Linked DNA regions of Homo sapiens: regions 1, 2 and 3 are each reported to be linked to region 4. The links are microRNA targets in miRTarBase. Many come from high-throughput screens and were not tested one by one. Region 4 holds a microRNA gene; each other region holds the end of a gene's coding sequence. Distances are between the middles of the regions.
The links. Region 4 holds the annotated microRNA hsa-miR-520f-5p (CCUCUAAAGGGAAGCGCUUUCU, at 2,500-2,521, opposite strand). A microRNA usually pairs through its seed, bases 2 to 8, with sites in the 3' UTR of a target mRNA and lowers its output. Matches are read on the target gene's strand: a 7mer-m8 pairs with bases 2 to 8, a 7mer-A1 pairs with bases 2 to 7 and ends in A, and an 8mer does both.

Region 1 (7,122 bases), not on the chromosome of region 4:
AAAAATACTCAGATTTAGGGTAGTGGGTAGGGGGGATTCAATTTTTAAAAAACAGAAGAATGAGTTTATCTCCAAAGATTAAAATGGAAACAAATACGAGGAACAGGAGATTTTTAAAACATGTCTTGACTGTATAATCAAGTTTTCCTCACTTAAAAGTCTGGTTCAAGATTACTTTTGACAGAATCACTACAGTCATTCTCCTTTGCTCCCTGATTTCAGTATGCACTTTTCTTTGTTTTGTATTTTGTAACATTCCCTGGTCCCTTCTCTATGACAATAACTTTCCAAAAAATGCTAATGTAACTTTAAGTCACAATAATATAGATACATATTTTAGTATAAGGGAGGTAGTAGTTCTTCAGCATACTGCATGATTAGCTGTCTTCTAAAGGATTTATTCAGTTTTCGAGCTCACTTTTTATGGGACATTGAAAGATTGGTAAGGAGTATAGAATAGAATGTTTGGCTTACAGAAGGAAAAACTATGTGAGGAAGGAACTCATGGCACTTACCTTCATAGAACTGAAGGATTGTCAAGTAAAGGTAAGATTGAATTACAGTGTAGCACCATAGAAGAGCTTTTATTCCATCACATGGAAGAAATAGTGCCATTCAACAACAGAACGTGCAGTGTGTTTTTTGTTTGTTTTGTCATTGGAAATGATAAAGTAAAAACCGGTTGATTACCTGTCAGAAATTGTTGAGAGGATTCCTACTTTAAGCAAGAGGTTAAACTAGGTGCCCTCTAAAAGTTTCTTTTCAAAGATTCATTGAGCCCAAACACATTTTCTAATTTTGCTTTGAAATCCAATAAAGCTAATTTAATATCCAAAATGAAATACTCTTATAACTTTGATATTTTGGGTAGAGGTTAACCTGCCCATCTTTCCTACTAATAATGTACATCTTTTTTAAAGTTTGTTTTTGTTTTCTTCAAATAGGGCACCATAAAACAAGCTTACACGAGTGCTCCAATGGTAGACAATGAATTACTTCGATTGAGTCTTCGGTTATTTAAGCGGAAGACTACTTGCCATGCTCCAGGACATGAAAAGACTGAAGATAATAAACTTTCACAGTCCAGTATCCAACAGGAACTGTGTGTGTCTTAAGACCGAAGTTCAATATGGTATTTTTGGTACTGTCTTCCTTCAGCAGTGCATATTCTTTTGCAAAGTTCTTTGGTTTGACAAGCATTAGTGACAAAGGCAGAAAAGATTTATCAGCCATGCTAAAAGAGTGAAGAATTTTGATCTTTAGAGACACTAGTTTTGGCCAACTTAAGATTTTACGTTAATTTTTACATAGTATTTGACACTCATGCAAAATAATGTGAAAACATCTAGATTTAGTAGTTTATTCTGCGCCTTTTGTTAAAACTGAAGATTTTGGAAAATGGTTGTCACTGCTCTTCCAGCCTATGAATATTTTTGTGAAATGGAACCATGGATTTATGTCTGGATCATCCATACAGAACCAACAATTTTATTCAAAAACAATGTGTTCATCAAAGTAATTGCTCACATTGTGCAGTACTATGTTGTACAGACCACGTGAAAGGGAATGCTGGTCTAGCTGGCGTGGTATGTTTATAGGCGAATTTCAGCAGAAGGAAGCCAAAATAGTTTTTTCCTTTTGAAAGTTTTTTAAAAATTATTTCATGGGTCTTTTTTTTAATTAATATGTGTGCATTGTTACAATGTATGTTGGATGTCTTTTGACCCTAAATGCTTTTTTTGTTATCAGAGATTGTGTACTATTTTTATTTTTAATAAATGTATCTTCCCTTTCCTTGTTTTAGATTTACTTTGCTCTTCGTTAATCTTATTCCTGATGATCTAGAACATTAGTCATCAACATTACATGTTTCATGCTTCAGATATTTTACTGCTTGTGTCCTTATTGTTGGACAGCTTTAAACAGAGTTGATGTACTTCAAATATAGCTCATTGATACTTAAGGCATCTTCTTGGAATGTGGCTTTTGAAGAAAAAAATTACTCAAAGCAAATCAAGAGTTAACAAACCTAACGTAACCTGAGGTTTAATATTCTACTATCATATTTTTTAGAGCTATAACTTTTGATTATATTAAACTGCCTCCAGCTGTACTATGTAAAACAGATTTACTTTTAAAAATTACAGTATACCTGCTTTGTTCTATATGTATATGTTTAACTCATGAAGTGGACTCTTAGAAGGATTTGAAATGGACTCTGGCCACAGAATTTGTGAGCAGACAGTAGTAGTGATAATAATAAAAGAAGGCAATCAAAATTTAATTTTATCATGCCCTCTCACAGGTTTGTGTTATAATTGTAAGCCCATATTACTTGTGTTAGTAGTTTTGTCTCTATAGGTAACATAATGACAGTGGTGTAAAGTTTCTGTTCAAGAAACATATGTTGTAAAGTTACTTTATACAAGATACCTGCCAAAGGAAATGGTCTTACTTTCAAATGACTTTGAAAGCATGTATAATTGCAAACAGAGCAGGAGAAGACTTTAATCAGAATTTCCTTGTGTCCTTTTCCTTTACTAAGTGTTTTGAATAAAGAAAAAAAAAATGTATGACCTCAGAGAATGAATACCCTTCAGGAAGCCACTTCCTGATTTTAGTGGATAATATTGTTCTCTGTAGCACAAAGATTTAAAGTCCTAGAATTTCTAATCCTAGTTCTCAGAATTGTAGAATATGACAAAAATAATGGTTTCCCCATTTGTCCACTGACTTCAGGGATATTTCACAAGTTATTTATTTATAGAATGAAAACTATGTAGTTAAATCTGTCATTCAGTTAAACCTGTTGTCTTTCAGTTTGAAATCTTTTTGTTATGTATGTTGCAAAAGAAAATTTAGAACTATTCCTTTGTTCACTCAGTCACAGCATTCAGAGCTTTATGTTTCCAGTGGAAATGTACTGTTCAGTCTCAATTTCTTTTAATTCAACCATTCTCAGTATTAGTAACATATACCTATAAAATTTTTCTAAAGCAAAATTTTTGATTGAATTTCTCATAAAAGCTCTTGGACCATAATTAAAGTCTCAGTTAAACTGGTATTCCCGAAAAACAATCTTCCAGTCTATAAATTGTTTGCTAGTACAATTAAAAGGTCATCTATCTCATAACTGACGGCTCAGGTCTGTCCAGTTGCCATAATTGCACAACTGGATTCCAGCTGCTGGTAATAAGGAATTGTGTAGATAGATAAAGGGCAAGAGTATGTCTGCAATCCAAAATAAATGAGAGTTAACACATAATTAGCCTTTTGATTATTTTGGCAGCTATCCTCACCATTTAGTAAAGGGTATACTAACAATACCCAACTTTATTTAACAAAGTTTTGTAAGCATACCTAAGTAGTAACTTGATATGCTGAAAAATCTGACCTGTCACTTCGCTTCACTCTGACCAGTAATTGCAGATTGTCGTCACCATCCTAGCCTATGACTACATTAGGATTTTATGACTTATTAACTTGAAAATCTGTTCTGTAAGTGGCATTGGTAGAATCTCCCACTTTGCTCCTCACTGTCCAATTGTGTAAAGATTAAGGTACATACTATTGTTGGTGATGCTTTTACACCTCAACTTGCTATTTTAAAAGGTTATATGAACCCCTCCCACTTTTAAGGATATTCCCTTTTACTGATTTTCCTAGCTAAAATTATATAGCCATCTTTCTAAATATTGTATTTAAATCTGATCTAGGACTTGCCTTATTTTATCATTTTTCTTTAATAATCTCCAATAAACTTTCTTTATTCATTAATTTTGTTGATCTTTCCATTTCAGTATTTTGAATGACACTCTGGGGAATCCAAGTTTAAATGGTGAAATATTTTTATTAAATAACTTTCTACATGCATCTGTAAACATACTTTCTCAACTTTATTGAGCTGTTTCTTTCATATTTTTTTTTCTTTTTTAAATTATTTTTATAGAGATGGGGTCTTGCCTGGGCTGGTCTCAAACTCCTGGCTTCAAAGCCATCCTCCCGCCTTGGCCTCCCAAAGTGCTGGGATTACAGGCATGAGCCACCATGCCCAGCCCTTTTTTTTTTCAGAGGCAGGGTCTTTCTCTGACCCCCAGGCTGGAGTGCAGTGGCAGGATCATAGCTCACTGCAGCCTCCAACTCTAGGGCTCAAGGGATCCTCCCACCTCAGCCTCCCAAGTAGCTGGGACTACAGGTGTGCATCATCATAACTGGCTAATTTTAAAAAGAAAAATTAAAAAAACACTTTGGTAGGCCAAGGCAGGAGGATTGCTTGAGCCCAAGAGTTCAAAACCAGCCTGGGCAACAAAGTGGGACACCATCTCTGCAAAAAATACAAAAATTAGCCAAGTGTGGTGGCACGTGCCTGTAGTCTTAGCTACTCAGGGAGGCTGAGGCAGGAGGATTGCTTGAGCCCAAGAGGTTGAGGCTGCAGCGAGCTGTGATGGCGCCACTCCATTCTAGCCTAGGCAACAGTATGATACCCTGTCTCAAGTTTAAAAAAAAAAAAAAAAGGTGGGGGGGGGATCTTACTATGTTGCCCAGATGATCTCAAACTCCCAGCTTCAGGCAGTCCTTCCATCTCAGTCTCCCAAAGTGTTCGGATTACAGCCGATAGCCACCACCTGGTTATACTGTGATAGAAGTACAATTGGAGTAGCTTAGGTAAAGATGGGAAGTAAATAGACATGAATAAAATGTAAATTGCAGTGATTGCAATTAAAGAAAAAACCAAATGACTGAGATGAGAAATAAGTGTAGCGATTGGGAGTTGGGTACTACTTCAGATTATCAAGAAGGTCTTACGTATGAGATGAGTCCTAAAAAATGAAAAGAAGCTAGCAAAGAGCAAAAGGGGAAGGAGTATTTCAGGCAGAGGGATGGGGATATGCAAAGGCCTAGGAAAAGAGCTTTGGTGAATTCCAAGACGAAAATACTACTATGGCTCACCACTGGGTGGAGGGGATGGGGGTTGCTAGAGAGAAGGTCTAGAACAGTGCTGTTCAACAGAATATTCTACAATGATGGAAGTGTTCTGTAAATGCTGCCCCCCAAAAAATGGCCAATACAAGCTTCATGTGGCTTGTATTAAACACTTGAAATATAGCCAGTGTGACTGAGAAACTGAGTTTTAAAATTTTGTCATTACTTTTAAATAGCTGTATGTGGCTAATGGCTACCATTTGGGGTGGTGTAGGTATATATCTTGGCAAAGCCTTGTGGAATATGGAAGTGTTTCCCACAGTAGAGTATAAAACAAGTTCTGTATGTTCTAGTTACTTTGCATGGCAAGTGGTACTGATTGTTTTAGTTTACTGTGGCAATATAACATTTCTTTTTGGAATAAATGTTAATAACTAAACAAATTAAGTAGTCAGTGTGGAAATAGGACAGAAATTACTGGTGCTCAGATAATTGAAGTTTAGAATATGTAGGCTATGTATGAAGTTGGAATTTCATTTGAAAGCAAAAGTAATAAGTAATAATAAAAGGATAAAAGGCATTCAATCACGTCAAAACAGGCAAGCAGAAGAGAAAAAGCAATTTAGAACAGGTGAGACAAATAGAAAACACACGGATGTAAGCCCAAATGTATTCACAAATTATGTTAAATGAAAACATTCAGTATCCAATTAAAAGACAAAGATTATCAAACCACAGAAAAACAACTACATGTTGCTTATGAGACTGACCTAAAACATAGGGAGCTTTAAAAGTAAAAGGATAGAAAAAAGACACCATGTAAACATCAAGAGAAAACGATGTTAATGTTAATCAGTTATCCCTATGTATTTCATATGTATTGCTGTAATGCTTGCCAAATGCCGGTTTTCTAATTCCACTGTTTTTTCTACACTTACTGGAATTCCCTTATCCATTTATTTCTCCTTTATTCACTTATTTATGTCAGTATAAACTCATAGATTCCTATTTTATTTCATGGGTTATAACTCATTATTGCTCAAAATATCCATGTTTTAGACTTGTTAATTAACTTCCGTGTGTATGTGTGACAATTCCAATATTTAATGCCAATTCAGAATCTGTTTCTATTGTGTGTTGTTTCTGTTGGCTCTTTTTCATGTTTTCTTCCCTACTCTTAGGTCTGGTTATCTTTCACTATATGCCGAAATCGTGTTTGCAAAGTTGTTTGTAGAAAAAAAGTGGAGGTCTAAGATGCTGTTGTCCAGACACAAGTTTTTTTTGCTTCTGGGGTCACTGTCAGACTGAAAACATCTTAATCCTGTTTTAGGAACTAAGATGATCTGAATCCCCAGATGACTCGCATCTTGGCTGCAGTATATGCATGGGCACTTGTAGCTCACTGTCATTCCCAGGGTTCAGACTTTGAGGTCTAGATCCAAAGTACAAGGGTTCATAAGAGCCTCCATTCTTGGTGGATCCCATGTGCCAGTGTTTTCTGCCTTCCCCAAGAGGACATCATAACTTATGATTGGTTCCTCAGTCTGTTTTCCAGATTTTTAAATGGCATCTGGGCAAAATTGACCCCAAATGTCAGGTTCACCCCTGCATATCTATCTCCTGAATTTTGGCCCAAGATTTTTTCATCATCTTACTGGCTTTTCAGTGTTCAAGCAGAATTTTTAAAATAAATGTTTTGTCCAGCTTCTCCAGTTCTTAGTGTGAAGTTGTTCTGAATTATCTCATCTCCCATTACCAGAACAGTTTAACTTTTTTCTTTACTTCCATTTCATTGCATTTCTCCATTTTATTACCTGTACTCATTTGGTTTCCCACAGTGTGTATTTTTCTTTTTGTATAACTCCTTTCCTAAGCTCATATTTTTTCTTTCTGTGATTTCATCATCTCTTCCTTCTTGTTTCTTGTTTTGTGGACTTTCTTCATGGAGGCAGTTGAATCACTAGATTTTAATATTCATGTTGAATTTTTTTTTTTCTTGAGATGATGTCTCTGTTGCCCAGGCTGGAGTGCAGTGGCATAATCATGATTCACTACAACCTCCACCTCCCAGGTTCAGGAGTCTTCCCACTTCAGCTTTCCAGGTAGCTGGGAACACAGGCACATGCCACCACACCCAGCTAATTTTTTATTTTAACTCTTTTGTGCCAACAAGGTCTCCCTATGTTGCCCAGGCTGGTC
Region 2 (7,122 bases), not on the chromosome of region 4:
TACCCCAGTTTTGACACTGTTAAGAAGTTATAAAGGAATGTTAAATTATTTAAGATATTTCAAAAAAGAATTAAGAATGGAAGAGTAAATTCTGCTGGAAAAGATAGGGCAGCTTTACAGTCTGCAAAGTAAATAATCTACAGAGATGCAGCTTAACTTTTTTTTATTATAATAAACATACTTATTTCCATAAGGTGCTGTGACTTTGCAGCTAGTGCATACTAATGCCACCCACTGTACCCAATGTGCAAAAGGAAATAATGGAGATGGCTAACCTCCAGTTTTCTGATCCTTGATTTGCATAAGTGGTGATGTACACCAAATACACAAAAGCTGGAGTATAAATATTTATTTTTAAAAATTAGGCCAAACTGAATATAGATATTTAATCTGGTTTCACAAACTCTTAAAATAATTTTCTGAGGAAACAATGATGAGGAATGTGTAGGAAAGGCAATGTTTCTATGCTAGCGGTACCAAACCTGGAACTTTAAGTATCATTTTTTAGCTCATTAACTATATAGAAGATTACTAAGACCAGTAAGGGAGCCATTTTCTTCCCCTCCTCTATTTTTATTACTTATCTCTCTCCTCTTTACTCTTAAAATTGGCAATCTTCTGACAACCCAAGCTAATAAAATAATATAGCTATATATAATTCAAATAACTAAAGAACTTTTGAGTCCATATATGCAGGATTTTTGAATACCTCACTACATTTGCTCTTATACCCTCACTGTCCTGGTATCATAAATATTATTAAGGGAAGATAACTTAGAAGGGGAAAGCAATTCCAACCTGGGATAAAAAAGTGATTACAAATAATTATCTTGTTGATAGTAAGGGCTTATGGTAACAAGTAGCTCTGATTTTTCACATAAAGATCCCCCCCCAAAAAAACAAAATACAAACAATTCCAGTTTTTTTCCCCCAGAATGTGACTTATTTCCATTATACAAAGCAGTATAACAAAATAAGCTCTCTTCTGCACAAAAAACGATTAATGGTTTATAAGACAAATAAGTAGAATGCTTCTCTTTGCCTTTAAATTAAAATACTATGAACCTAGGTAACAAAACATACATGGCTTTCTTCAAAAGGGCCACAAGATTTCTTCTGGTTATTGTGACAGCTACCCAATTTAATGGGAAATAACACTCAAGCAGTCATTTGGTAAGTTTCCCATGAATTTCAGCATTTACAGTGCCACAAACACAACTGCCACAATTATGACAACTCTCTGAAAAGCACAAATAAAGCAAATTTAAAACATTAATCCTCATAAGCAGTACAAGGCAGAACAAAAGTGCTGAGTGGTAGGAAAATGAATAAAAATTTCCTATCAGGAGAATAAAGTTTGTGTAAACTATCTTATATCCTGAAGATCACTTTAATGACCACCTATAAAATACAAAGTTTCCTAAATACTCTCTGATTTATAGATATTTCTCTTACAGTCCACTGCTCCTATAAAATTACAGCAAAAAATATTAAAATTATTTACCTTCTTCTTAAATATCCATGGCACTTGTCAAGTACATGCTACTGTGAATCTACTGGTCATTATATAATTTAAAAATAGTGAAAAACATCTGAGGGAGGTGGCTACAATAACGAACATGACATATCCTATAGTATTAGGCAGAGAAGCTATCCTAAAACAAAATGAAACAAAATCTTTACAATTCTGGGTACTCCAAAAACTAAAATATCCATGTTCTTCTGTGATTAAGAATGGGACTTATCTTAATATACCACAAGAGGCTCAGCTCTGTATGATGGAGACAACATTTTTATATTCATCAAGAAAGCTAGTAAGTAATACTAACTTGAAAAACTACCATCTCAAAATAAAGGTGATTGACTGAGCACCTTAAGAAATGGGGATTCTTTTGAGCTAATTGTGACCAAGTACTTGTCTATATGTGACCATAATTGACAAGAAATGAAATTATATCACAGAGCTACAGTAGTAAAATTTGATGAAGGAACCTGATATTAAAAACAGAACTAGAGATCCAAGGAAGAATTAAATTCTGCCAGACAATTCTGGCTTTTCCATCATATATAATATTGGAATAAAATCAAATATGAATAGTTTTACATATACAAAAAAATAAGGTAAACCAAGGCTATTTCCAGGCAGACAGTGAATATATATATGAAAAATAAAACAAAGGTAAACCCAGAAAATTTTGGACTTTTATACTATCATATGTGACTCAATCTAAAAGTTACTCCAGGAAAAAGGCAGAAGTGCTATTAATTATCATCATCTGGGAAGCTTTCACCCAAATGAGTTTTAATATTTTCCAGCAAACACAAGGCACTTGCTTAAATCTTTATCTACACAGCCATCAGACTCAAAGTCATGATGTGATTCCAATGTACCCGAATCTGAATAAAGCCACCTAGCATGTACCCCTGCATAAGTGTCTAGGTAAATAGATGGTTACTGAGTGTCTCCCCTACTCCTTCACCCAGTAACTATGTTGTTACAATTACTATCATTTACAATGGTGCTGATTTTCATTAAATTAACTGTAAAAAAAAAAAAAAGTCATGCTGCCAAGTATACTGATAGTAGAACTTATGTGTAAGATAGGCCTAACAGTCAGAAAATAAGACCTAAAACAAAAAGATACCCAAATGTTAGTTATCTGCATGATAAATTAACTAAAACAAGCCATGAAACAGCATCTGATAAGTGCTCTAACTCCGCCTTTTATTCCAGAAAAGTAACTGATGCCCTTACCAGAGTGAAGGTCCAGTGTAATAAGACAGAAAAAAGCCTTCTGCCCATGGTTTCTCTTCAGCTTTCTCTATATGGCAGCATTCCTTATAATAAACTTGCTCAATAGTTAAAATATAAGCAACATGAATCTAGAAGACAAGTTAAATAAGTATTTGGAGATTTTCTTTTAAAAAATAATTTAACATATCTCAGCACTCTTTAGCAGCTGGAGTACCAAAAAGAAGGCAATATTTCTCTCAATAAAAACAAAGAGAAGTTCGAGTAAAACCATACTTATGGTTTTTGTTCTAAAAGCAGCCAGTTTGGCTCAAGGCATAGCAGAAAGGGAATCCCTCTAAAGAGAGCTGCTATATTGGTGGCCACAAAAAAGGAAGACATCCAGTGGTAATAAATGCGGATCTCTTATTGCAAGAGAATAGTTTTAAAAATTCCTTTAAAAGGCAGTCAGTACTTTTAGTTAATGCTGTCTCTTACTGAGGTGTCCAACTCTACTTGTTTTTGTCCTGTAAATACAGCATTAGTTTTGACAGTGGCTAGCTAGCTACCCCCTCCAAATATATTTCAAAAGAATCAAGTATTTCCCACAAAATAATCACTGTATGTGCCTTTTCTGGGTGTACAATGTGCCACAGTAATACCCCAAAGAAGTAACTGGGAAGGTGAGAGGCAAGGAAGCACAGGTATTAATTTAGGGAATGAAACACTACCTGAGACAAAATTTGCCCAAAAGGGTAGGGGTTAAGTGACATGAACCCTCACCTCTTTACCCTTTCTCTCAAAAAGAAAATTTCTAGGTCTTTCAATAACTTCAATAAACCAAAATCCCTATGTATATATTTCATCCTAATCATGAAACTTGTATCTTTTGATATTTGGTTCAGGTTTAAGAAAGATAATATCACAGGAGGGAGGGGTAATCTGCTAATGTGATCTTTGGTAGAACGGGCTAAGAGCTATAAAATAATTTCAATCACAGGAGGCATTTCTTTTTCAATTCTCTGGCTTTAATATAAAACATCTAGCCAGGTGTGGTGGCAAGCGCCTGTAAACCCAGCTACTGGGGAGGCTGAGACAGGAGAATCGCTCAAACCTGCGAGGCAGAGGTTGCAGTGAGCCGAGATTGAGCCACTGCACTCCAGCCTGGGCAACAGAGCAAGACATCATCTCAAAACAACAACAACAACAACAAAAAATCTAATTAAATGCATGGTTAATTCAAGGCTCATCAATTATTCCCTCAGCTCCCTTAAAATCTAGTAACCATCTTCTGTAACAAAATTCTACAGTGTCAAGCACTAAATATATGTATGAATGTATCAGCAATAAGATGACAATCAAAGAATGCTGTGAAGATTGGCATCAAGATGTTAGCAGCATACTGCAGGACTAGGCTTAGAAGCCTACCTGCAGTTTATTTGTAAGGATTTTTCTTTTGGGGGCGGAGGGGAGAGAAAAGTAAATGTGCTAACTTAGGATACTTGCCCTTATAAAGAATTCCTTTGTATCCCATGTTCATCGTATTTAAGGACCTGATGTTTCTAATCACCACAAAATCTGCTACCCATATGAACATTTAGGAAAGTTTAGGTCTTCACAATACGGGTTCTGCCCACTTGAATTCTGACTTGAAAACAAACCAATTTATAATCAACTCCTGAAAGGGCCAAAATAAAAAATAATAGTTCTTCCTTCTAAGGGCATGTATTGGGGAACATGCCACAAGACCCTTTGGTAATTCATAAATCAGCCTCCTTATGCCAAATTTGGTTTCATAATAAACATTAAAGGAGAGTCCTGAATTTGACAATTATAAATAACTAAAATGTCAAACAATAATTGTTTGAATGGGGTAAAGTATTTCATTCTGTAAAATGCAAATTCTAACTGGACTCTCAGCAACCTGCATGGCAAACATAAGGAAATATGAGGAGGCTTCCAGCAGGGAAAGATAGAAGACTTTTTCCTTAGGAAAAAATAAATAAATAAAAAAATTAATAACCTGTATATAACTTGTCTTTTTTTTTTGGTATAATCAGTGCTTCATAAAGGCATCCTAATTTTTATATCTTTAAAGACAACCTACCATGAAATAAGAAGAATCCATAATTATAATTCTAAAAACCATGTAATCAACTTGTGTCCATGAACTCACGCATAGCAGCATCCTCTACTCAGGGACACATTATGTTGCTATGAATCCTTTTAAGAATTCTTTGAGTTTTTCTTCCTTTCTACTTCTACCTCATTATATCTACACCTTTCTTAACTACCTTGCAGTCAAAAGCCAAACTACCTGGGATGCTGCTCCTCTAGTTTGTCTTCAGCTAAGGATAGAGGCAAAGAATGAGGGAAGGGGAGGAAAAAGGGAGCAGGGATACGAGAAACAGAAAGGAAGAAAAAAGAATCCTTTTATTTTCCACCCTCTCTTCGCCCATTTTTTTTCTTTTCCCTTCACTGTACATCTAATTCTTTTGACCCACTTCAATTTTCATCATAGTAGGTAGAGCCACATCTTGAGAAACCTTAAAACTATAGATTTACTACAAAAAAGATGAGCTAATACAAAGTCTAAAGTAAACTAAAAGAGGGGTTGATTTACATCTGGCACAACTTAGTCTTTGTTCCAATCATTTTAGAAGTCTCAATTTAACTCCAGGCTAGACTCCAGTTTGTTCTGGGCCTCTCAGGAATTATGTTTTGTCATTTACATTGTATCAGACAGACTACCTCTCAAAAAATGTATATCTTAAATCTTACGGATGTGAAACAGGTAGGGAAGAAATAAGTATAGACTGTATTAGCTCACAGGATTCACACTATAAAGTACACTGACTCAAATTTTCTCTAATCATTCATACTCGCACATTCACTCAAGCATACATACTAGACATAAAAATTGTGCAAGATCAAGCATCAGCTTTCTATTTTAAAAGCCTTAATTTAAAAAAACTTAGATAGGCTCACTGCAGTTCCTTTAAAGGAATATTCAGTACTACAGTACTGCTTTAAGAAAAAATTCACAACTCAGTGTTAAGAACACAGTAGGTAACTGCTGCTTGACAATTACTTAACATTACTGAGAGCATCCAGTGCCAGCTTATGGATATCAACAATAAGGAAGAACCACTGGACAACATAAAGAAATAATCTGTAAATGATGTCACCAAACCTAACAAATTTGTTAGTATTTACCAAGACATGATATTATTCATCCTTGCTTCATGATCCATGAAATAATTAAGATTTTTTTAGGCTACATACTGAAGAGCAACACCTGCTCTCCCGCACAAAAAAGGGTTGCCCACATGGATGCTCTAAAACCCCTCAATGTATAGCTGAGAGGTCTTGTCCTACTCAGTGCCAAATGTATGCAACGCAGTCACTGCTTGGGCAATGGCTGCACATTAGTAGGATTAAATAAATGTATAAAGTACCTTCTTAAAATGGTAAGGGGGTAGTCCTGCATTCATATGTGGAATAACCCAAGAAATGGAAGAGGAGAAAAAGGAAACAGTCCTTAGGTTACTGATTAAAGCAAGGTTTGATACAGATATCCCCTCTTGTAGGCACTCAGCGGGTAGAATGTAGCCACAACAAACTTCCCATCAAACATCCTTCCAGTCAGTAATTTCTGCGCAGCTTTGGAATCACCAGCATTTGCATACTCAACAAAGACCTGAAAGAAGACAGAGAAAAAAACATTTCATTTCCACCAAGATTGTTTTAGACCAGTGCTTTACCACCTTTAATATATATACATCAACTGGAGATGTTATTAAAATGCAGATTTTGCTTCCTTAGGTCTGAGATGTCGCCTGAGTTTCTGTTCTAAACAAACTTCCAGGTGATGCCAATGCTGCTGGTCTATGAACTATACTTCAGGACAGCAAGGTTTAGAATACTTCCTCACAACTCAGCTCAACTTTGAAAAATCTCTCAAGGACAAGTTGTGTGAATCATGTACAATCTTTTGCTAAGGTCGTTACAGGAGTGATGAATAACACTAGACATCTGCCAAAGATACGGCTGAATAGCTCAGACAGCAACTGCATTTCAATGGTACCTGGATGATAATCTGTACTTTTAGCAGTGAAAAAGGAAAAAATATTGGTCAAAAGCTGCTGGAAATTGCACCTATTAGGAAGTACAATTTGGCTGGGTGCAGGGGCTCACTCCTGTAATCTGAGCACTTTGGGAGGCCAAGGCAGGTGGATCACGAGGTCGGGAATTCGAGATCAGCCTGACGAACACGGTGAAACCGTGTCTCTACTAAAAATACAAAAATTAGCTGGGCAAGGTGGCACACACCTGTAATCCCAGCTACCCAGGAGGCTGAGGCAGGAGAATCACTTGAACCCGGGAGGCGA
Region 3 (7,122 bases), 52 Mb from region 4:
GCCACTGCTCTCCAGTCTGGGTGATATAGCAAGACTGCGTCTAAAAAATAAAATAAAATAAAAATAAAAATAAAAACAGAGTGGCCGGGCACGGTGGCTCACACCTGTAATCCCAGCACTTTGGGAGGCTGAGGTGGGTGGACCCCAAGGTCAAGAGATGGAGACCGTCCTGGCCAACATGGTGAAACCCCGTCTCTGCTGAAAATACAAAATTAGCCGGGCGTGGTGGCACATGCCTGTAGTCCCAGCTATTTGGGAGGCTGAAGCTGGAGAATCGCCTGAACCCGGGAGGCGGAGGTTGCAGTGAGCCCAGATTGCGCCACTGCACGCCAGCCTGGCGACGGTGAGACTCCGTCTCAAAAAATAAATAAATAAATAAAAATAAAGCAAAAAAAAAAAAAAAAAGATTAAAAGAGTGAAGGTTGAATTCAACAGCCAGGTCCCCCACTTCAGGCCAAGTGACTTTGCCCGGAGAGTGGGCATCGGGGATGGCACCAAGAGGGAGCAGAGGGCCTGCCTGGTGGGGTGATGAGCCCGTTGGGCAGATGTGCACCCTGAGGGCGGGCGGCACGTGGGGAGCCCAGTGGGGTTCGGGCGGCCGCTGAGCGTGCTGTCTCTGCCACCCGCAGACGAGACCCTGTACGAGGCTCCTGAGCCCATCTTCACCAGCAATAACTCGTGTAGCAGCCCGGGCGGCTGCCGCCTCTTCCTCAGCACCATCCCCGTGCTCTGGACCCTCCTGGGTTCCTAGTCCCAGCCCCGCAGGACGCCGACCCTGCCTGGACGGCCCCGCCTGGACCGCCTGACCTCGGCCCTCCGGACCCGGCTGCGGCCCCCGCCTCCGAGACCAAATAGAGACGCTGCTTCTCCCTCGCCTGGTGCCGCCCCCGCCGGGCAGGGGCCATCCACCCGCCCCAGGACCAGCCCTCAGGGAGGGGAAACGGCCGAGAGCCCCCCCCCGGAGGCCCGAGGGGCCGGGGTGTGGATGCGGACCGTGGCCAGGCCATCTCCTCTGGGGCGTCGGAGAACCCGGGAACCTCTTGGCGATTTTTTTTTTTTTTTTTTTTTTTTTTTTTTTTTTTAGTGTATTTTTCGTGGTTGGATCAAAAAGACTTGAGTTTTTAATTTAATTTATTCCCTGCCGTTGTAGCGGGGCGGGGTCCCTGTGCCCTGGCCTGGGGGAGGGGAACGCGGAACATGGGGTCGGGAACACAGCCGCTCCCCTCTGCTCTGCACCCCACTCGTGGGGGAACACAGCCGCTCCCCTCTGCTCTGCACCCCACTCGTGGGGGAACACAGCCGCTCCCCTCTGCTCTGCACCCCACTCGTGGGGGAACACAGCCGCTCCCCTCTGCTCTGCACCCCACTCGTGGGGGAACACAGCTGCAGCCCACCGCGGACCCCCCTGGTGCTCCAGGTTGGGTGAGTCTGAGCCGGAAGGGGTACGTGGTGGGCGCCCCTCATTGTGGCTGGGGAGACCTCATACCCCATCGCCCACCCCCGTCCTCCTGGTCATTTCCTCCCAGACACTGTTTTGCCCCAGCGCCCTTCGGAATCACAGTCCCGCCGTGTCTTAGAAACTGCTTTGGCCGATGCAAACAGCCCCCTACCCGTCCCCCTCGCCTCACACGGTCCCTCTCCGAGGCCGAGAAGACCTTCTGTTCCTGTAAATACAGCCAGCAAGTGCAAACTGTGATTTTATTTTCCACGTATTCCTGAGGACGGACTGGACCGTCTATGTTTTTTCAGCCCTTCATAGGGGGTCTTTTATTTTGGTGGGGGGGTGGGGTGGACTTTTAGAGTAGAAGCTGCACTTGGCAATAAGCTCGTGTCGTCTGTCAGAGCCCCTCTCTCAACTCTGTGACCTGATAATGTTTCTAAGAAAAAGAAAAAAAGGACAAAAGGGAGGGAACCACTACCAAAAAAAAAAAAAGAAACTCCTCCCCGAAGACACTTTAATGAAGGAAACAACACATTTATACGGATTTCATATTTCTACCCGCCTTTCCTGACTCTGTGTTTTATATATATTATATATAAATATATATTGTGTACGGCCGCCGGCCGGCGGCTCGAGGCACGCCCGGTGGTGGGGGGTGGGCAGAGGGCTTTTGTAGGGGGTCGGCGGGGCGGGCCGCGTTGCCAGGCCTGGAGCTGGCGACCGGGCCTCCCTCTTCCCGTCACAATCAACTTTGGATTCTGTATTTTTTTATAATAAAATGAGCATAAACCTCAAACGCGTGTGTCTGTATGTGGGGGCCTTGCCCTACTTGAAGGAGACTTTTGCATTCCTAATTTGGCGGTGGATGCTGGGCGTGGTGGTTTACTCCTGTGATTGCAGCACTTTGGGAGGCCGAGGCGGGCAGATCGCTTGAGGTCAGGAGTTTGAAACCAGTCTGGCCAACATGGTGAAACCCCATCTCTACTAAAAATATGAAAAAAAAAAAAAAAAAAGCCAGGTGAGGTGGTGCACGCCTGTCATCCCAGCTACTCGGGAGGCTGAGGCAGGAGAACCTCTTGAACCCGGGAGTTGGAGGTTGCAGTGAGCTGAGATCGTGCCTTTGCCCTCCAGCCTCGGCAACAGAGCGAAACTCTGTCTCAAAAAGGAAAAAAAAAATTAGCTCGGCGTGGTGGTGCACAACTGTAGACCCAGCTACTCGGGAGGCTGAGGTGAGAGGATGGCTTGAGCCCGGCAGGTGGAGGCTACAGGGAGCTATGATCACACCACTGCACTCCAGCTTGGGCAACAAAGCAAGACCCTGCCTCAAATAATAGTAATAGTAATAATAATAATAATAATTTAGAGGTGGGTCTGGAATCTACTGGGGAGAGGGGTGCGGCTTCGAGGAACCTCTGGGGATCCCCAGAGCTGTGAACCTGACTGATTCTTTGGTTCTGTGCATCGTTTTGGGGTCAGACCTTGGGATGAGCATTTTATAGGGCCCGTATCCTTCATAGCCATCCATGGGCTTCAGTTTCCCTCTCTGGGAAGTAGCAACAGCCCACCTAGGGCTGGGAGGGGGCAGCTGGGAGGATGGAGGGAGGAGACGGGGCCTGTGCATGGCTGGCCCTGGGGACACCGCTGGCCGGCACACACCTGAACATGGTGGAATTCCTGGGCCTCAGGATCCAATCAAATGTTGTGAAATCTCCACTGGCAAGCTCTGCCTCTGTGTAACTCAGTTTCCCCACCTGCTCCAGGCCAGGGCAGGGGCTCTGTCATCTCCTAACCTCTTCCCCTTGCAAACGGCACATCTGTAAGTTCTCGGGTCCCAGGGGCCTTCATGCCAGGCACGCCCCGATTGAAGAAACTGAGGCACAGAGAGGCTGGGGGTGACGCGGCAGGTGACCCGGCCCAGGGGACTGAGGTCTTTACGGCTGGACGATGGTCGCCTGCATCCCACCCGCCGTGACGACGGCGTCTCCGGCACAATTAGCCGAGCGGGAACGCTCCCAGCTAATTAATTCAGCTGCGCTGGGCCCGGTGACGGGGGCCGCCTCCTAATGAGGCAGCCCAGGCACAAAGACCCCTGTGTGTGCCCCGCCCCGCCCCTGCCCAGCGCGGGGTGGACGCACGGAGGCACAGAGGGCCGGCCGGCCACCGTGCTGAGCACCGCGGGGGAGGCTCCACCATGCCCCACTCCACAGAGGACCCCGAGGCTCAGAGAGGGAGGCGACCCCCACAGCCCATTCATGCCGAGACCCCCACCCCAAACTGCAACGTGACCACTGGGACAGAGAGGACCAAGGACAGAATGAGATCAGGGATCATGAGAGGCATCCCAGTGCTGACTGTGATGCTGTTACAAAAACACAATAGTGTCCTTCCCTCCATTTTAAGTACAATTGCATGGATTTTAGTGCATTGAGACTTGTGCAGCCATCAGCTCTGATTCCAGAACATTCCATCACCCCAAAAGGAAGCCTTGTCCCCATCAGCCGTCACTCCTTATCCCCTCCCCTGGCACCAACGTATCCCCTCCTTCCCTGTCTCTGTGGATGGGCCTGTCCTGGACGTTTCATGGAAATGGGTCACACACTGTGTGGCCTTGCGTGTCTGGCATCTCTCACTGAGTGTGACGTCCTCAAGGTGCATCTGCGCTGTGGCCTGGGTCAGAGCCTCGCTCCTTTTCACAGCTGAGCACGTTCCGGTGCGTGGAAGGACCACGCTGTGTTTATCCAATCATCTATCCAGGGGCACTTGGGTACTTTCCACCTTTTAGCTATTATGACAATTGTTAAAAATACAATTTATTATTATTATTGTTTTTTGTAGAGATGGGGTCTTGCTATATTTCCTGGCTGGTCTCGAACTCCTGGGCTCAAGTGATCCTCCCGCCCTGGCCTCCCAGAGTGCTGGGGGTGCCAGGCATGGTAGCTCACCCCTGTAATCTCACCATTTTCAGAGATTGTCTCTAAAAAACAAAGAACAAAAACTCACAAGCCAAACTTCTTGTGATTACAGAAGTGAGCCACCACGCCCAGCCAAGATGCTTTTTTTAGATTTATTATTTAACTCTGTATTATTTATTAGAGACGGGGTCTCACTCTGTCGCCCAGGCTGGAGTGCAGTGGTGCGATCACGGCTCACTGAAACCTCTGGCTCCTGGGCTCAAGCGATTTGCCTCCCGCAGCCTCTGAGTAGCTGGCACTACGGGCATATTGTGACAATCTTATTATTTTTGAGACAAAGTTTCAATGCAAAAGGTGACTTTGCTTTTTCGTTTTTGTTTTTGTGTTTTTTTGAGACTGAGTCTCTCTGTCACCCAGGCTGGAGTGTAATGGCACGAACCCGGCTCACTGCAGCCTCCGCCTCCCACGTTCAAGCAATTCTCCTGCCTCAGATTCCCGAGAAGCTGGGATTACAGGTGTGTGCCAACTCGCCCAGCTAATTTTTGTATTTTTAGTAGAGATGGGGTTTCACCATATTGGCCAGGCTGGTCTCAAATTCCTGACCTGAAGTAATCCACCTGCCTTGGCCTCCGAAAGTGCTGAGAATACAGACGTGAGCCACTGCGCCCAGCCTAAAAGGTGACTTTGGGTAAATACACAAAGAATGGCTGAGCTCCTGCCTCTGGGCCTTTGCATGCACTGTCCCCCCAGCCCACCCCACTGCCCCGATGAACCTCTCTTGCAGATTGCAGCCAGGCTCCCCCACTCAGCCCCTTCCAACTCAGCTCAGATGTCACCTGAGCTCCTGGCCAGGAGGCTGTGGGTGCCCTTTGTGACTGTTTACTTACCTGACTCCTCCCCAGGCTGCAGCCGCTAAGGGCAGGGCTGGGTCTGTCCTGGTTATCGCCGGGACCAGTGCTGGGCCCAGAGCAGGGAATCTCCTGGGACCGTGTCATTGGCCACACGCAGACACGTGTACACACACACACGCGTAGCCCTGCGCTTGCACCTCCATGCCTGTGTACCCCTGTGTCGCCAGACACATGTGTTTTGGGCCCGAGCCTCTCAGGAACTGACCTCCACTCCCGCGCCAGACCCTGACCAGACCCTGGTGCCTGTCCCAGTGGCTGCATCAACGTGTCGAGTGGCCACTCACTCCAGGGGCTGTGCTGGGATGTCCCCGCCGGGTGTGGGCGCTCCTTGGGGAACCTGGTTACCCCCGACCCCAGCCCCAGTGAGACCCCAATGCCGGCTCCTGCCAGCCCTGGACGGCCATTGGTACGCTGGTCCCGCGCAGAGTCTTTTCCGCCCAGAGGATCCTGAGGGAAGTCATCTCCCTCCTGCCGGCCAGTTACTGCCGCCTCGGTGCCCGCCGCGGGCAGGGGGCAGCGGGAGGCTGCTAGGGGAAAGGAGGCCTGAGGCGCCCAAAACTCTTGAGTGCGGCTTGGGGTGGAACGTGCCGCCCCCCACAGCCCCGGTGGCCCAGGGCAGGGCTCTGCATCCCCCCAGACCTCACCACTGAGCCTCAGTGTGCCTGTCTACATCTGTGTTTGAGGAGAAAACCCCTTGGTCCCCACCCTCTGGTCCAAACAGCCATGATGGAGGGGGGCTCACTTTTTTTTTGCTTTTTAGAAATGGTGTCTCATTCTTCACCCTCAAAACTGAACGGAGGCTGGGCATGGTGGCTCCTGCCTGTAATCCCAGCAATTTTGGAGACTGAGGCAGGCTGATTGCTGGAGGCCAGGGGTTCAAGACCAGCCTGGGCAACAGGGTGAGACCCCCACCACCACCATCTCGGCAAAATAAAAATTAAAAAATTAGCCAGGCATGCTGGCACGCACCTCTGGTTCCAGCTACTCGGGAGGCCCAGGGGGAAAGATGCTTTGAGCCCAGGAGGTTGAGACTGCATTGAGCCATGATCACGCCACTGCACTCCAGCCTGGGTGACAGAGCCAGACCCTGTCTCAAAAAACAAACAAACAAAAATACTGAACAGCTCACACCAGTAATCCCAGCACTTTGGGAGGCCAAGGCAGGTAGCTCACTTGAGGTCAGGAGTTCGAGACCAGCTTGGCCAACATGGTGAAACCTTGTCTCTACTAAAAATACAAAAATTAGCCGGCCGTGATGGCAGGCGCCTGTAGTCCCAGCTACTCGGGAAGGCTGAAACACAAGAATCGCCTTGCAGGGATCCAACAGCCACATGGCAGTAATGAGAGGCTCCAGAAAAGAAAAGAAAACAAAACAAAACAAAAATAAGAAAAACAAACAAAATAAGGAGAAGAAAAAAAAAAGAAGCCCCCCCCCCCACCATCCCCAGAGGCCACAGCACTCTGTCCTCTGGTCCCCCAACCCAGCCCTGACACCTGCTTCTTCCCCAGGGCACCTCTCACTCACGGGTGTTCCCTCTTTGCCCTGGCTGGCACACCCTTCCCGAGTCTCCTCTGGGCTCTCCCCACCTTTTTTTTTTTTTTTTTTTTTTTGAGATGAAATTTCGCTCTTGCCGCCCAGGCTGGAGTGCAGTGGGGCGATCTCGGCTCACTGCAAGCTCCGCCTCCCGGGTTCACACCATTCTCCTGCCTCAGTCTCCTGCGTAGCTGGGACTACAGGCGCCCACCACCACGCCCGGCTAATTTTTTGTATTTTTAGTAGAGACGGGGTTTCACTGTGTTAGCCAGGATGGTCTCGATCTCCCGACCTCAGGTGATCCGCCTGCCTCGCCTCCCAAAG
Region 4 (7,122 bases):
TAAGTCCCAGTACAGGGACACACAGTCCCCATGCAAGCATCCAAAATGGAATCTAAGATGATGTTTAAGAATATACACTGTTGTACACACATTCTCCAGGATAGAACACAGGCTAGGCCATAAAAGCTCCTCAATAAATTTTTTTTTTTTTTTTGAAACAAGTCTCACTTTGTTGCCCAGGCTGTAGTGCAGGGCCGTGATCTCAGCTCACTGCAAGCTCTGCCTCCAGGTTTCCAGCAATTCTCCTGTCTCAGCCTCTGGGGTACCTGGGATTACAGGCACGTGCCACGATGCCCACCTAATTTTGCATTTTTAAAATTTTTTTTTCTTTTTTTTCTTTTCTTTTTGTGGAGAACAGGGTCTCACTGTATTGCCCAGGCAGGTCTCAAACTCCTGGGCTCAAGCTATCCTCCTGCCTCTGCCTCCCTAAGAGCTGGGATTACAGGCGTGAGCCACCGCGCCCGGCTAATTTTTGTACTTTTAGTAGAAATGAGGTTTCACCATCTTGGCCAGGCTGGTCTCAAACTCCTGACTCCAGGTGATTAGCCTGCTTTGGTCTCCAAGAGTGCTGAGACGACATGCCTGAGCTACCGTGCCTGGCCTGCAGACAGCTATTCCAGAGGCTGCGGTGGGGCATGGGCCAAGACTGCAACACTGCACTGCAGCCTGGGTGACAGAGCCAGACCTTGTCTCATAACACACACACACACACACACACACACACACACACACACACACGAAGGAAAAAAAACCCAAAGTGATACAAGAGTATTCTGTGTGTGTAGAAGAGTGTTTTGTGTTAATCATTATATTATCTATAGAAGATGATATGATAAAATGTGTATCATATATAAGACACTGCCCCCAGAAAAGGAAGTTCTATATACTGAATGCTCACACGAAGAGTAATTTCTCCACCTAAGTGCCTTCTCTGGCAGCATATGTTAAAAAAAAAAAAAAATGACAGCGATTCCCACGTCCCCTGCACAAAGTGACACCCAAATTCATGATGGTCCCATATTTAAAATTAGAAAAAACAAATGCCGACACCCACAGCCAATCATTTCTACTTCAAGTACATCTCAAGTATACTGTTAATCTGAAATACAAATTTAACCAGGTTTCCCTGCTCTGGGAAGCCCCCTTTGGTAATTCAGATAAGGGTCTCCTTTGGAAGGTAATGGGTAAGGAACATGGAGATGTCAGCCAAGGGAAGTGACTCTCAGGGATTTCTATGGATTATGCAGACGCCCAGCCAGATCCCAAACTTCCCCAAAAGATCCCAAGTCCAGGCAGGAAGGACCACTGGGCTCCAGAAACCAAATGAAGTGGCCCTGGGCAGGAGTCTCTGTTGTCAGATTCCATGACTAAGACAGCCAGGGAGCAGAGTGAAAATCCCAGGGGCTCTCTCTCCCAGAAGACACCTGCTCCATCCAGATCAAACCCAAAATGTCCCCAGAGAATGATGCCTGCTTCTCCTTTCCCCTCGGCTCATCCTGCCTGCATCGGTGCAGTGCCCTGACGTTCCCAGCCCAGAGGCCTTCACTCCTTCCAGTGCCCCAGGAGGGTCACCTTGCAGTTCTCAGGGAGGAAGATGGGGTCTTCCACCCTTGTGAGCTTCCCAGACATCAGGGTCTGCCCGCCCCACTCCATTCCCAAAGGATGTTCCGCCCAGTTCTCCCAGCCTCCTGCTTCCCTCCAGGGACCACCCTTCAGTGGTAAGATTCACATTGCAGACAACCAGGACCAACCCATTATCCTCAACTGGACACCCATACAAGATTGGTCTACGTGACCGGCCTACAAGAGGCAGATCCAGAGCTAGAGAGATGGGGAGTCGTTGCCACGGTCTGGGTGGAAGAGGTGGGTGGGTACTGACTGCAAATGAGTATAAGCCTCTTCGGGGTGATGAAAATCTTCCAAAACTAGAGTGGTGGTGGCTGCAAACAAGCTAAAATCCACATCTCAGAGTTCATCTCAAAAGATTAGTTTCTCGGCCGGGCGCGGTGGCTCACGCCTATAATCCCAGCACTTTGGGAGGCCGAGGCGGGCGGATCACGAGGTTAGAAGATCGAGACCATCCTGGCTAACACGGTGAAACCCCGTCTCTACTGAAAATGCAAAAAATACAAAAATTAGATGGGCGTGGTTGCACGCACCTGTGATCCCAGCTACTCAGGAGGCTGAGGTTTCAGTGAGCCAAGATAGTGCCACTGCATTGCTGAGACACACAGTGAGACTCCCTGTCAAACAAACAAACAAACAAACAAAAACGACCGGAGCCCAAGAAATGTAGGTTGAAGTGTCACCGCACTCCAGCCTGGGCAACAGGGACCTTGTCTTGGAATACAACAAAACAAAAGCAAAACCCCACCATCATCCAAGTCTGATGATAAGCACGCTCTGCAAATATTTTACCAAGATCAGCATCAACTTCAACATTGCTTTTCCCAAACGGTAACCCTCTAAAAGGAAGCACTTGCTTTTCTTTCTGACCACAGAAAGCGCTTCCCTTTAGAGGGTCACAGCCTGAGATCCTCTTGCTCCAGCACCGTGGATTTTTTGTGGGAATCTTCCTTGACCAGGTTTAAATGGACACAAAAATAAAGATGCATTTATTGGGGCCGGGCGCAGTGGCTCATGCCTGTAATCCCAGCACTTTGGGAGGCCGAGGCGGGCAGATCACGAGGTCAGGAGATCAAGACCATCCTGGCTAACAGGGTGAAACCCCGCCTCTACTAAAAATACAAAAAATTAGCCTAGCGTGGTGGTGGGCACCTGTAGCCCCAGCTACTTGGAAAGCTGAGGCAGGAGAATGGCGTGAACCCAGGAGGCTGAGCTTGCAGTGAGCCAAGATTGTGCCACTGCACTCCAGCCTGGGTGACAGAACGAGACTCCATCTCAAAAACAAAACAAAACAAAACAAAAAGATGCATTTATTGGCCCTGTTTGCATGTTTTCTGGAATCCAGAACATAAACCCCTAAAAGGACCATCTCCAGTCCTTTGCTTCAAAGAATCAGCAGGTTAGCCTTGTTCATCAAGGGGCAATCCTCCTGAGTTCTGTCCCCAAAGAGAAAAAGCAATGCCTACCACATATACCTTATATTTAACCATGAGAATTGAGCTGGATTTCTAGAGAACAGCAATGGATTTTGAGCCAAGTGTTCACTCGAGTTCCAGCACAGGGACACACAGTCCCGATGGGAGCATCCAAAATGGAATCTACTATGTTCAAGAATATACACTGTCTCACACACAAACATCCTGCAGGATAGACCACAGGGTATGCTGTATAAGCTCCTCAATAAATACAGAAATACACAAGTATGGGTGGGGCGTGGTGGCTCACACCAATAAACCCAGCACTTAAAGAGGGCAAGGCAGGAGGATCACTTGAGCTCAGGAGTTCGAGCTCAACCAGCATGGGTAATATGGTGAAACCTTATGCACAAAAAATAGAAAAGTTAGCTGGGTGTGGTGGTGCGCACCTGTAGACAAGTACTCAGGAGGCTGAGGTGGCAGGTGGAGGTTGCAGTAAGTCGACATGGCACCACTGCACTCCAGCCTGGGTGATAAAGCTAGACCTTGTCTCAAAACAAAACAAACAAACAAACAAGAAAAACACAGAAAGAAACAAGTAAATAAATACCCAAAGTGATACAAGAGTATTCTCCGTGTGTAGAACAGGGTTTGGTGTACATATGACTACATTATATACATGATAAGACTATATGATTAAATATACATCATATATTGTTGAGACCCTGTCTATGAAAAAAAAAAAAAAGAATATACTGTTTGCTCACATTAAAAATAACTCCTCACCGGGTGCGGTGGCTCATGCCTGTAATCCCAGCAGTTTGGGAGGCCGAGGCAGGTGGATTAGTTGAGGTCAGGAGTTTGAGACCAGCCGGACCAACATGGCAAAACCCCGATTCTACCAAAAGGACAAAAATTAGCCGGGGTGGCGGCATGCACCTGAAATCCCAGCTACTCAGGAGGCTGAGGCAGGAGAATCGCTTGAACCCGGAAGGCGTAGGTTGCAGTGAGCCGAGATCATGCCACTGCACTCCAGCCTGGGCGACAAGAATGAGACTCCATCTCAAACAAACAAACAAACAAACAAACAAAATTCCTACACACAAGTGCTTGCTTTGGCAGCACAAAAAAATACAAATAATAATTAAAAAAAAAAAAAAAAACACCCTGCAGTCCGAGCAGGGTGGCTCATGCCTGTAATCCCACCACTTTGGAAAGCAGAGGCGGGCAGATCACCTGAGGTCAGGAGTTCAAGACTAACCTGGCCAATGTGGTGAAACTCCATCTCTGCTAAAAATACAAAAATTAGCCAGGCGTGGTGGCACGTGCCTATAATACCAGCTACTTGGGAGGCCGAGGTTGCAGTGAGCAGAGAATGTGTCACTGCCTGCCCGCCTGGCCCACATAGTGAGACTCTGTCTCAAGAACAAAAACAACAAAAAAAGTAGGGGGGACCAACTAGCCTAAGAGGTCTAGGTTGGAAGCGCCACCGCACTCCTGCCCGGGCAACAGAAACCCTGTGTTGCAAAAAAACTAAACAAAAACAGAACCCCAACATCATGCAAGTCTGATGATAAGCACGCTCTGCAAATGCGTTACCAAGATCAGCATCAACTTCAACGTGGTTTTTCTCAAACAGTAACACTCTAAAAGGAGGCACTTTGTTTTCTTTCAAACAGAAAGTGCTCCCTTTTGGAGAATGACTGCATGAGATCTTCTCGCTCCAAAACTCTGGGTTTTTGTTGGAATTTTCCTTACCAGGTTAAAATGGACACAAAAATAAAGATGCATTCATTGTCCCTGTTTGCATGTTTTCTGGAATCCAGAACATAAACCCCTAAAAGGACCATCTCCAGTTCCTTGCTTCAAAGGCTCAGCAGGTTAGCCTTGTTCACGAAGGGGCAACCCTCCTGAGTATTGTCTCCAAAGAGAAAAAGCAAAGCCTACCACACATACCTTATATTTAACCAAGAGAATTGGGCTGGATTTCTAGAGAACAGCAATGGATTTTGAGCCATGTGTTCACTTGAGTTCCAGCACAGGGACACACAGTCCCGATGGGAGCAACCAAAATGGAATCTAAGATGATATTTAAGAATATACGTTGTGGGCCAGGCACAGTGGCTCATGCCTGTAATCCCAGCACTTTGCGAGGCCGAGGCAGGTGGATCACCTAAGGTCAGGAGTTCAAGACTAATCTGGCCATCATGATGAAACTCCGTCTCTGCTAAAAATACAAAAATTAGCCAGGCGTGGTGGCATGTGCCTGTAATACCAGCTACTCGGGAGGCAGAGGTTGCAGTGAGCAGAGAACATACCACTGCACTCCAGCCTGGGCCACAGAGAGAGACTGTCTCAAGAGAAAAAAAAGGGGGAGGGGGTGGGGGCAGGGACCAACTGAGCCCAAGAGGTCTAGGTTGGAAGTGTCACCGCACTCCAGCCTGGGCAAGAGACCCTGTGTTGCAAAAAAACTAAACAAAAACAGAACCCCAACATCATGCAAGTCTGATGATAAGCACGCTCTGCAAATGTGTTACCAAGATCAGCATCAACTTCAACGTGGTTTTTCTCAAACAGTAACGCTCCAAAAGAAGGCACTCTGCTTTCAGACAACAGAAAGTGCTTTCTTTTGGAGAATGACTGCATGAGATCTTCTCACTCCAAAACTCTGGGTTTTTTGTTGGAATTTACCTTACCAGATTAAAATGAACACAAAAATAAAGATGCATTCATTGGCCAGGCGCGGTGGCTCACGCCTGGAATCCCAACACTTTGGGAGGCTGGTCAAGAGACCACGACCATCCTGGCCAACATGGTGAAACTCCGTCTCTACTAAAAATACAACCATTTGCCGCCTGTGGTGGCATGTACCTGTAGTCCCAGCTACTCGGGAGGCTGAGGCAGGGGAATTACTTGAACCAGGAGGCAGAAGTTGCAGTGAGCCGAGATCGTGCCACTGCACTCCAGACTGGCAAGAGTAAGACTCCATCTCAAAAAAAAATAAAAATAAAAATAAAAAAGGTGCATTCATTGCCCCTGTTTGCATGTTTTATGGAATCCAGAACATAAACCCCTGAAAGGACCATCTCCAGTTCCTTGCTTCAAAGGCTTAGCAGGTTAGCCTTGTTCATCAAGGGGCAATCCTCCTGAGTTTTGTCCCCAAAGAGAAAAAGCAATGCCTACCACACATACCTTATCTTTAACCAAGAGAATTGGGCTGGATTTCTAAGGATGTTGAGCCAGTGTTCACTTGAGTTCCAGCACAGAAACACACAGTCCTGATGGGAACATCCAAAATGGAATCTAAGATAATGTTTAAGAATATACATTGTTGTACACACAAATACCCTCCAGGACAGACCACAGGCTAGGCCGTAAAAGCTCCTCAGTAAGATTTGACAGAGCTGGGGGGAAAAAAAGAATGTACATTGTCACACACACGAACATTCTTCAGGATAGACCACAGGCTAGGCTGTAAAACCTCAATAATTTTTTTTCTTGGAGACTAAGTTAGGAAAAACAAATGCCCACACCTAAACAACCAATCATTTCTAGTTCAAGTACATCTCAAGTATACTGTTGACCTGAAATAGAAAGTTAACCGGGTTTCCCTGCTCTGGGAAGCCCCCTTTGGTAATTCAGTTAAGGGTCTCCTTTGGAAGGTAATGGGTAGGAACATGGAGATGTCAGCCAAGGGAAGTGACTCTCAGGGATTTCTATGGATTATGCAGATGCCCTGCCAGATCCCAAACTTCCCCAAAAGATCCTAAGTCCAGGCAGGAAGGACCACTGGGGTCCAGAAACCAAATGAAGTGGCCCTGGGCAGGAGTCTCTGTTGTCAGATTCCATGACTAAGACAGCCAGGGAGCAGAGTGAAAATCCCAGGGGCTCTCTCTCCAGGAGACACCTGCTCCATCCAGATCAAACCCAAAATGTCCCCAGCCAGTGATGCCTGGCTCTCCTTTCCCCTCGGCTCATCCTGCCTGCATCGGTGCAGTGCCCTGACGTTCCCAGTCCAGAGGGTGGAGGTTGCAGTGAGGGGAGATCACAGACTGTCAGAGCCTTCCTCTCTCCTTGCCTA

Region 1: the mRNA of ZC3H13 is a reported target of hsa-miR-520f-5p. Seed matches in the 3' UTR shown: 8mer at 1,259-1,266 and 7mer-m8 at 2,069-2,075.
Region 2: miRTarBase lists UHMK1 as a target of hsa-miR-520f-5p. Seed matches in the 3' UTR shown: 7mer-m8 at 6,068-6,074, 7mer-A1 at 5,597-5,603 and 7mer-m8 at 3,088-3,094.
Region 3: the mRNA of EFNA2 is a reported target of hsa-miR-520f-5p. Seed matches in the 3' UTR shown: 7mer-m8 at 1,796-1,802.

The regions. Positions count from the first base shown.
Region 1 is chr13:45,951,120-45,958,241 of GRCh38, reverse strand. It overlaps ZC3H13 (zinc finger CCCH-type containing 13), which reads left to right. Exons shown (of 19, transcript NM_001330564.2): 19 at 945-3,777. The coding sequence ends at 1,115. Among named protein-coding and RNA genes, the nearest start is that of ZC3H13, 98 kb to the left of the region's middle.
Region 2 is chr1:162,521,713-162,528,834 of GRCh38, reverse strand. It overlaps UHMK1 (U2AF homology motif kinase 1), which reads right to left. Exons shown (of 8, transcript NM_175866.5): 8 at 1-6,431. The coding sequence ends at 6,285. Among named protein-coding and RNA genes, the nearest start is that of UHMK1, 27 kb to the right of the region's middle.
Region 3 is chr19:1,299,195-1,306,316 of GRCh38, forward strand. It overlaps EFNA2 (ephrin A2), which reads left to right. Exons shown (of 4, transcript NM_001405.4): 4 at 630-2,237. The coding sequence ends at 751. Among named protein-coding and RNA genes, the nearest start is that of EFNA2, 17 kb to the left of the region's middle.
Region 4 is chr19:53,677,572-53,684,693 of GRCh38, reverse strand. MIR520F (microRNA 520f) reads right to left here and starts at 2,535; the gene lies at 2,449-2,535. It overlaps MIR515-1 (microRNA 515-1), which reads right to left and starts at 5,691; the gene lies at 5,609-5,691. It overlaps MIR519E (microRNA 519e), which reads right to left and starts at 4,754; the gene lies at 4,671-4,754. The region is part of intron 2 of LOC107985342 (a long non-coding RNA gene); the gene reads right to left. RefSeq lists an enhancer at 6,499-6,999.